Linked DNA regions of Homo sapiens: all the other regions are linked to region 3. The links come from fine-mapping of genetic effects on gene expression. A gene starts in region 3. Each other region holds a variant in brackets. All regions are shown on one strand. Distances are between the middles of the regions.

Region 1 (2,758 bases), 160 kb after region 3:
TTTCTTTTGTCTAAATACTATGGCATAACCCATACACCCCTTCTCTCAACAACACAGTTTAATCTGATTAGGGACAGACAGAGAATTGATAATGATCCATGAAATCCCTATAGGATTGTGTTCTAGATACCTTCTATGATAAACCACTTGAAATCTCTATTTCAAAATCTTGCTGCATAGTCCCTATAAAAATTCTTCCATATCTTTCCCCCTGAAAGAAATATGCGGGTTCTTATTGCTAGAAAGGGGACAAGTTATGCGACTGTGATCTTTTCTTATGACATCACTGTGGAGAAAAAGGCAGATTTTGCCTCAAGCTAGAAGATGAGAAAAGGCCCTGTTTAGCTGGTAGGGAGGACGGTGATGACTGCTGCTGAAGACTCAAGAGTCCAAGACAACCGGTTTCTCTCTATCTCTCTCCTTCTCTCTCCCTCTCCCTCTCTTCCTCTTTCCTTGTCTCTTCTTCTCTTCTTCTTTCCTTGTCTCTCCCTCTCCTCCTCTTTCCTTGTCTCTCCCTCTCTCTTTCCTCATCTTTCCCTCTCTCTTTCCTCCTTTTTCTTCCCCCAAATCTCCTCCCCTTTCTCCTTCTCACCCTCTCTTCCTCTTTTTTCTCTTCCCCTCTCTCTCCTCCCCTCTTTCCCCCTTCCGTTTTCCCCCTTTCCCCTCTAGAACCTGGATTTTTGCATATTAATTTTTTATGCAGCTTCGTTATTGAATTCTCCTACTGTTTTTCAAAATTGCCTTTTGATTGATTTTACTGTTTTATCCAGGTATAAAATTATGAGTGTATCAGCTAACAATAATAATAAAATTATTCTTTACCTTTCTTCTAGTTTCACCTTTTATTTATTTATCTCTACTCTCTAATTCAATGGTTGGTATATCCAGAAAAGGGTTAAAGTGTAACAGATTTGATTTGATGCACCATTACGCATGACACATACTTTTCACTAGAGATATAAATTTAATTTTATTAAAGAACACATCCATTCCTATTTTATTAGAAGGAATTTAAAACTAAGAAATTCATGTTCAACTTTTTCAATAGTTTTGAGGATCTATTTAACCTATAAACGTAGAGAATTATACCAAGACATATCCTTAAATTATTCTAGCTTTATTTTTTAAAAATAAGTCCATTAGGCTATGGTTTAGTATTCTTTCTATGTGCTGCTGAATTCTATTTTATATGTATGCGTGCATCTACATACATACACACGTAGGTAAATAGATGAGATAGGAAAGGAAAAGGTGGTGTTTTCATTTCCTGTACTTCCTTGTTATGTTTTTAATGGTATGGCATCAATGTTATGCTGGCTTGGTTAAAGCAATTTGGAAGATATCTTTCTCACTTTATTCTCTGAAATTGTTTAAACAGTATTAAAAACCTTTTGTTCCTTGAATGTTTATTACCACTCATCTGTGGAAACAGATGGCCTGGAACATCTTAAGGTGGTAACTGACAAGTTGTCAACTTCTCCTTAGGTAATTGGTATTTTAAGTTGTCTATCTTTTTAA[T/A]GGTTAACTGGGTAATCTGTTTTTTCTTAGAATATAAATTTCCCCCCCAAATTTTCACATTTATTTCTGGGAGTGGAACAAAATATCCTTACAAAATGTCTACTTTTCTTGGCACCAGTGGTTTGGATCAGATTAGTGTTTGGTGGTGTCTGTGGACTGGGGACCCTGGGGATGGGGATGAAGGGTGGGCTGAGCAGATGGAGCCCAACTCCCTCCCCTGGCCCCCACATCTATTCTGCCCCCCACCTCCATTTCAGCCAAAGCAGATATACTTTATATTTGGAGTTTTAACTTAAAGATTTCGTAGGGCATTTGGTCACTAGAGTAAAAGCCTAAAGCACCCACTAACCCAGAACTGTGATTTTTAAAATAATACATTTGTCTGTATGATTAAGTATAATAATATAATAGTTTTGCCTCCCCTTGACACCCAAAAGAGAGTGGGAGTGAAAGGTGCCACTGTTCCTAGAGGAAGCAATGTAATTTCTGACTCAACAGTTACACTATAATAATGTAATTTATAATATAAATGGATATGACTGCCATTCCTCAAGGAAGAGAAAGTGAGTGGAGGACAGCCTCACAAGAAGGCAGGCTTGTTCAAGTATCTCTCTCTGCCAGACAGATCTCCACTGCCCTGGGGAAACAGAGTTAGCTTAGCACCATCATTATTATTCCCAAGGTATTTTCAGAAATATCACACTGGAATTAGATGATACTGTGGACACAATTTAGTACCTGTCAGTTGGGTAAACTGGGTGATTTTGGCACAGGTGGAAGTATGCGGGCTATTTATGCTGGAGGGAAAAAGACCCAGGAACCAGGAGAACAATCTTTATATATCGGAAGAAAGAAGAGATAAGGTGTATTTCATGTAAAGGCACGAAGCTGAATTAGGACTGGAAGATGCTATCGGAGACAGATGTTAATGGAGACACGTATATGTTAGCACAATTCAAGGAAGAATTTGCTAGTAGGGCTGAATGAAACAGCTAGAACCTGGAAGTGTTAATTCTCTATCACTGGAGGTATCCAAGCAGATGCTGGATGAGTGGGGTCAGGGATATTGGAGAGAAACTCCATGAACTATGCAGTTAGCGGTGAAGAAAGAGACCTGTGCAGCTGCCTCTAAAAACACGACATGGCTCTGTAAATGTCTGAAGTTGGCTTGCATGGCCACTAGATGTCACTCTTGTGTATCTGCAGTAGCAAGATCGTTTCTCTTCTAGGGCAAGTAGAA
Region 2 (2,743 bases), 34 kb before region 3:
GAAATGACTGTGTCAGTGCACCTCAAACTCCCTTGCTGTCCTTTTCCAAGGAGACAGCTAAGGTGGATGGAGATGCAGAATGGACCTCACGTTCGCCCTAGTCAGGACTGATACCCTTTCCGTTTCAGAGGATTGCCAAGAAAAAACTCACAGTTGAGGCAGGGTGCTCTGAGGTCGGCTGCGGTGTGGGAGGCACGGCCTGGGCCTGCTCTCTGGGCTGGAGCAGGTGGATTCGAAGGCCTGTCTAGCACGAGGGCCCAAAGGTCTTGTCAGTGGCCAGTAGCTCTGCCGCCTTTCCCAGAGAGGGGGTCCAGGGGACATCCTGGAAGGCTGGGCCCTGGGCCACCTTCTGCTCTTGCAAGCTAGAGCCAGCCCAATAGGGGGCGGATGTGAGTGGGGAGCTGGGGCGCATGAAGGTGGGGGTGATGCCGAAGGGGAAGGGATCGCCAGTGGGGATTGGTGCGTGTGCGGAAACGGGGACAGAAGTGAAGGTTCATCGCCTATAACGAAGATGAGGTAGGCATATAGGGGCTTCTGGAAAGCTAGAGGCTGGGCTGAGCCAGGAGTCCTCTCCCAGAAGTTGGGGGGCGGTGCAGAGGTGTGGGTCGAGCCCGCATGCGTGCCTGCTGGGGAGGGGGTGAGTGGTGAGGACCAGGCCCGCTGGGTCCTGGGGGCGCGGTGGCTGGCGCGCAGGTCCCGGAGGGGGCGGCTGGCGCGCACTACACGCTTGGGAACAAGGAAAACATCCGCCGGAGGCCCGGCCGGGCGGCGCTCCAGCCTCGGGGCAGGTGCGCGGAGAGGAAGTGAGAGCATTCCGGCCCCCCCACCCCAACCCCGGCCGCTGGCCCTCTGGTGAGTCACAGCCGACCCCCGCCGCCGGAGGGAGAGGGGAGCTGCGGGCCAGAGCCCCGGAGGGTCTGGAGGAGCCAGGAGGGTTTCTGGGAGCAGAGGGTCACTTAGTGGGCTTCTGTCGTGGTGTCGCTACGGGCGCGAAACGGACACTGAACACAGTCTGACTGTATGGAGGCAGGTGGGGAGGGATCCCCTGGGAGAACTTGGCGGGCCGAGAGCAGACCCCAGGGCAAGGAGGGGCCCCCGAGGGGGAAACCGGGAGTCGGGCAGGTGGCG[T/A]AACCCAGAAAGGGAAGGAGAGCCGGATTGATTGGGGTGAGAGAGGAAGGAAGCACGCCAAGTTAGGCCTGGGAGAACTGAGGGACCTGAGGAGGGAGGAGGGAGACCAACACAGGGTGGGAAGGCGGAAATGGCCAAACCCCAGGCATCAGGTCTGTCCAGAGGCTGACGTAGACAGTGAAGGGTGAAGGGTAGGTTTTAGGAGTAGGGGGAGTTATGATTATTTGGTTACATTTTGGGATTATTTGGTCTCACAGGTAGAAGGGAGCCTGCTGGTCTCTGTGTAACGGATGGCTTAAAAGCAAGGTTGTCTGCGTCTTGGATTACTGTCTGCCATTCAGCCTTTGCCAAAAAATTTGGCACTGATCTGCACATTTTTATAGTCATTTAAAATTGTATGACTCTGTCAAATGATTTAAGTAATTTTGGTGGATTTTTAAAAATAAAAAAATAAAAATAGAAAAGTTGCACAATCTAATTCAATATTTGACTTAAAACCAAAAGTGAGGCTCTCAGATTGGTAATATGGTATTCAGCCTTTTTCTTGTTTGGCTTTTGTGCCATTTGCCCCTCACTGACTTGATTGAATTCTTTGTGGCTGATGCCTCAGTTTTTCTGGATCAGTAGTGCTGCACTTCCACTTTTCCTCTCCCTCATTTTACTGTCTTTATTTTTAGCCTTTTTTCTGTGTAGCCCTCTAACCTGCCCTTTATATTTTGAACCAAATAAAACATTTCTTGGAATGGGAGCTTTGGACTACAGTATACAGACAAACAACTCACAATTTTAGCATATGAGGCTACTATCTTCTGTGGATGTGTATGTAATTATACAGTTTCTGTATTTATCCTGTGGCTGATAGAAAAAGTTAAAGCTGTTTAATTCACCATAGTATTTCTACAACACAGCAATTTATTAGTCTGACTTCTCTTCTAAAATCAACTCTAAAATGGTATTTTGTACTTGTCTCAGAGACGAATTCTGCCATGATCCTTATGATCTGTGTTATGTTGGGCCAAAGGTGATTACTTTATAAATTATAAAGATCCCTAAACTCTGCATTGCCTTTGGTCCCAAACAAGCAAATCTGGGTCAATTAATGAAAAAAAAAAGAAAAGAAAAGAAAATGTCTTACTTTGGGCCCTGTTGCACTCTCCCGTGCTGTTTTAGCCCCAGCCCTACTCTATTCCCAGTGGCCTTTGCCTTCATTCCTTCTTTGCTCTGCTGGGCATCTTGAGAGGAAAACTTCACACCGACTTCCTCTACTATAAATTCTCTCCCTCCTCTCAACTCTACACTTCTCTTTGCCAACATACACCACTACTGCTTCACTGATTTTTTTTTTTTAAGCCCACAGTCCTTTCTGGCTCTTTTCCACCTTTAACACTCTTATGTTGAAATCTTCCGTTTTTCCTCCTTTCTCTTTAGTAAGACCTCAGGTTTTTAAAAAAGCTAGGCTTGATTGTTTATTCTGCATGGTCCACTTCTGCCTTCCTTCCTCTTCTATTACCCTTTTCTTATTCTAGACTGTTTTTAAACTCAGTTATGCTTGCTTTCACCAAAGCCTTAACCTTTCCTGTGATTAGAAAAAGATGCTTATGTTTCCATTACTTTT
Region 3 (2,732 bases):
TTGCTTAAAAATCAACTATTCTATTTGGTTGACTTGGTCTAAAGTATTTCTCATGTTGTCTCGTCATTCTTTTGACTGTTCCTTTTTTTTTTTTTTGCCTTGGCCAGATAGGACAAAATTCCTTTTCACTGCAGTATTGGGAGCCTGGAACTAGAGTTACCAACCCCTCTGCGTTAAAGAAGGAGCTGTCCTGAGGCTTCCATCTCTACTGGGCTTGAGGCAAGAACATTGTTAGGGACGGCCTGCTCTTGGCCTCTGTGCCCCAGGGATTGCAAATGCATGTTCCTCAAAGGTAAGGGCTGTATCATTCGGCTTTCTTTGTATTCACAGGTACAGCTTGTGCTAGGCAGCCGGTGTTCAATAAATATCGTGCCTAAGGATAAAGTGGCATTGTCCTTAATTTCCCCCACCAAACCACTAGGTGTCGCCTTCATCTCAGGGAAACCATGCCCGTCCTCGCCCTATACACTCCCACCCCACTCCAGGGCTCCAGGAGCGCTCTTAGCTTGTGATTTCTGGAGAAATAGCTTGAAGGGGGGAGAGAAACCGTGGCTCTTAGCGCGGGCAGAGAATGGGCTTATGTGCATGTCCTTTATGACAGTTGGAGAAAAATCCCCAAGGTCCCATAGCAGTCCCTCTCAGCCACCATGAGATCATCCCTCACAAGCTGTTCTTGGGGTCAGATTGGCACTCCAGATATGAGGGCCCTAGGGAGAGCTTCCTAAGGGAAGCTGGGAGCAAGGTGGAACCCCAGGAGAGCGTGGATGGGCTTCCACTGCGGGGAGTGTCCCGCCGGTCCGTTACAGGCTTTCCCCAGGCGCCAGCCTGCGCTGTGCAGGAGACAAAAGAAAATCGAGGCCCTGACTGAGCAGATGGTGCGGAGGAAGCCGGGCGGGCTGCGGTGGGCCTCTGAGGACACGAGGAGGGCAGGGGGCATGGAGACAGCGGGGGGCCGAGAGTTGAGTCCCAAGCAAGAAGGAGCCTCGTGGACTTTCTAAGGACTGGTGGGAAGTGTACAGCAGGGGCCCCTGGCTGCTGGAGGGGCCCGTCCAGGGAGCGGGCATGGTCCGCGGTGGAGTAAGCCGCACTGCCGTCGGGAGGGCGCTATGGTTTGCTAGGTGAGGGGGCTGGTGAGGATACCACACGTCTGGGGATCCTCGACTGCTTCCTGGAGACTGGAACCACTGAGGGACTCAGGGAGTTCAGAGGGGAGACCCAAGAAGAACGGGCTGAGCGAGGGGGAGAGGACAAACCCTGGGGTCGCTGGCGTGTGTGAGATGGAAATGGAAGGAGGGGCGGCAGGGGGACCAGGGGCGTGGGGGAGACCAGGGTAGGCCCTGAGAGTGAGGGAGCGCCCGGGAACCCTGCTGGCCGGCGAGGCCTTGGTGCGGAGCCCCCAAGTGCTCACCGGGGTGGGTTTGGGACCTGGCGGTCCCGAGCGCCCGGGTGGGGGGTGGGGGAAGGCAGCCGGCGCCGGAGGGTGGGGCCGGGAGGGAGGAGGAGAGGCAGCGGGGGAGGGGCGGGGGCGGGCGGCCTGCCCGGGGGAGTCGCACTCGGCCGCCGGCGCAGCGAGCGGAGACGGGCCGGGCCGAGGCGACCTGACCCGGACGAGCGGCGCGCGCGGGGCCCAGGCGGGGGGCGGGAGGAAGCGCCGGGCAGCGCCGGCCGCCAGGGCCCAGGAGAAGCGGAGCAGAGAGGAGCGGGGACACGGGCGGGGCCGCCGTAGCTCCGGATGGGACCAGCGCCCGGGCCCGTTAGTCCAAGCAGGAGCTCCGGGAGAATCCTTCACAGGGAGATTTACCCCTGCCTTCCCCTGCCCTCCGGCCCAGGCCTCGCTTCGCTCCCCGCCTGCCCATGATCCCAGTCCTTCCGCGGCGCGGGCACCCTCCCACCTTACCCCCTTGGTCCTATGTGGCGCAGCGCCCTCCTGCCCTCCCGGCCCTTTCAGCTGTGAGGTTCCCCCAGGCCGTTTCTTTGTACCACCCGCCCCCCACCCCCACCCCATCCCAGTCCCAGATCCCCTTTTCCTTCTCAGCTTTAGATTTATCAGGCTTCTTCACCTCGCACTGTCCCCATCCTGGCCGCAGGCCCCCTCGGTCCCTCCCTCCCCCTGCCACCCCGTTCTCAGTCCTCAGTCCTTGCCCTAGGCTGGTAGCCCACTCCTTGCCCGCCCCCCGCCTTCCTCCCATCTCCCCCTCCTCTCCCCGGCCCCCAGCACCTTCTGCATCCCAGCCTACCTAGCCTACTCCTCCTCTTCCTGGCCCTCTTCCCCAGGCTCCAGGCTGGGGGGTGCTCGCGTCTCCCCTGTAGGCCAGAGCAGCCCCAAGTTCTGGGGGCGGTGGGGCTGCTGCTTTATCCCCATGGCGCTGCCATCACTTCTGCTGTTGGTGGCAGCCCTGGCAGGTGGGGTGCGTCCTCCCGGGGCGCGGAACCTGACGCTGGCGGTGGTGCTGCCAGAACACAACCTGAGCTATGCCTGGGCCTGGCCACGGGTGGGACCCGCTGTGGCACTAGCTGTGGAGGCTCTGGGCCGGGCACTGCCCGTGGACCTGCGGTTTGTCAGCTCCGAACTGGAAGGCGCCTGCTCTGAGTACCTGGCACCGCTGAGCGCTGTGGACCTCAAGCTGTACCATGACCCCGACCTGCTGTTAGGTCCCGGTTGCGTGTACCCTGCTGCCTCTGTGGCCCGCTTTGCCTCCCACTGGCGCCTTCCCCTGCTGACTGCGGGTGCT

What was found.
Region 1: its variant is fine-mapped to the expression of NPR2 in adrenal gland (GTEx, PIP 0.99).
Region 2: its variant is fine-mapped to the expression of NPR2 in whole blood (TOPMed, PIP above 0.99).

The regions. Positions count from the first base shown.
Region 1 is chr9:35,952,428-35,955,185 of GRCh38, forward strand. No RefSeq gene overlaps it. Among named protein-coding and RNA genes, the nearest start is that of OR2S2, 4.3 kb to the right of the region's middle. RefSeq lists an enhancer at 1-35. The variant T/A (reference allele first, on the strand shown) is at 1,519.
Region 2 is chr9:35,756,346-35,759,088 of GRCh38, forward strand. RGP1 (RGP1 partner of RAB6A GEF complex) reads left to right here. Exons shown (of 9, transcript NM_001080496.3): 9 at 1-2,240. Among named protein-coding and RNA genes, the nearest start is that of MSMP, 3.4 kb to the left of the region's middle. RefSeq lists a silencer at 652-971. The variant T/A (reference allele first, on the strand shown) is at 1,129.
Region 3 is chr9:35,790,049-35,792,780 of GRCh38, forward strand. It overlaps NPR2 (natriuretic peptide receptor 2), which reads left to right and starts at 1,543. Exons shown (of 22, transcript NM_003995.4): 1 at 1,543-2,732. The coding sequence starts at 2,361. It also overlaps a transcript of RGP1 not described here.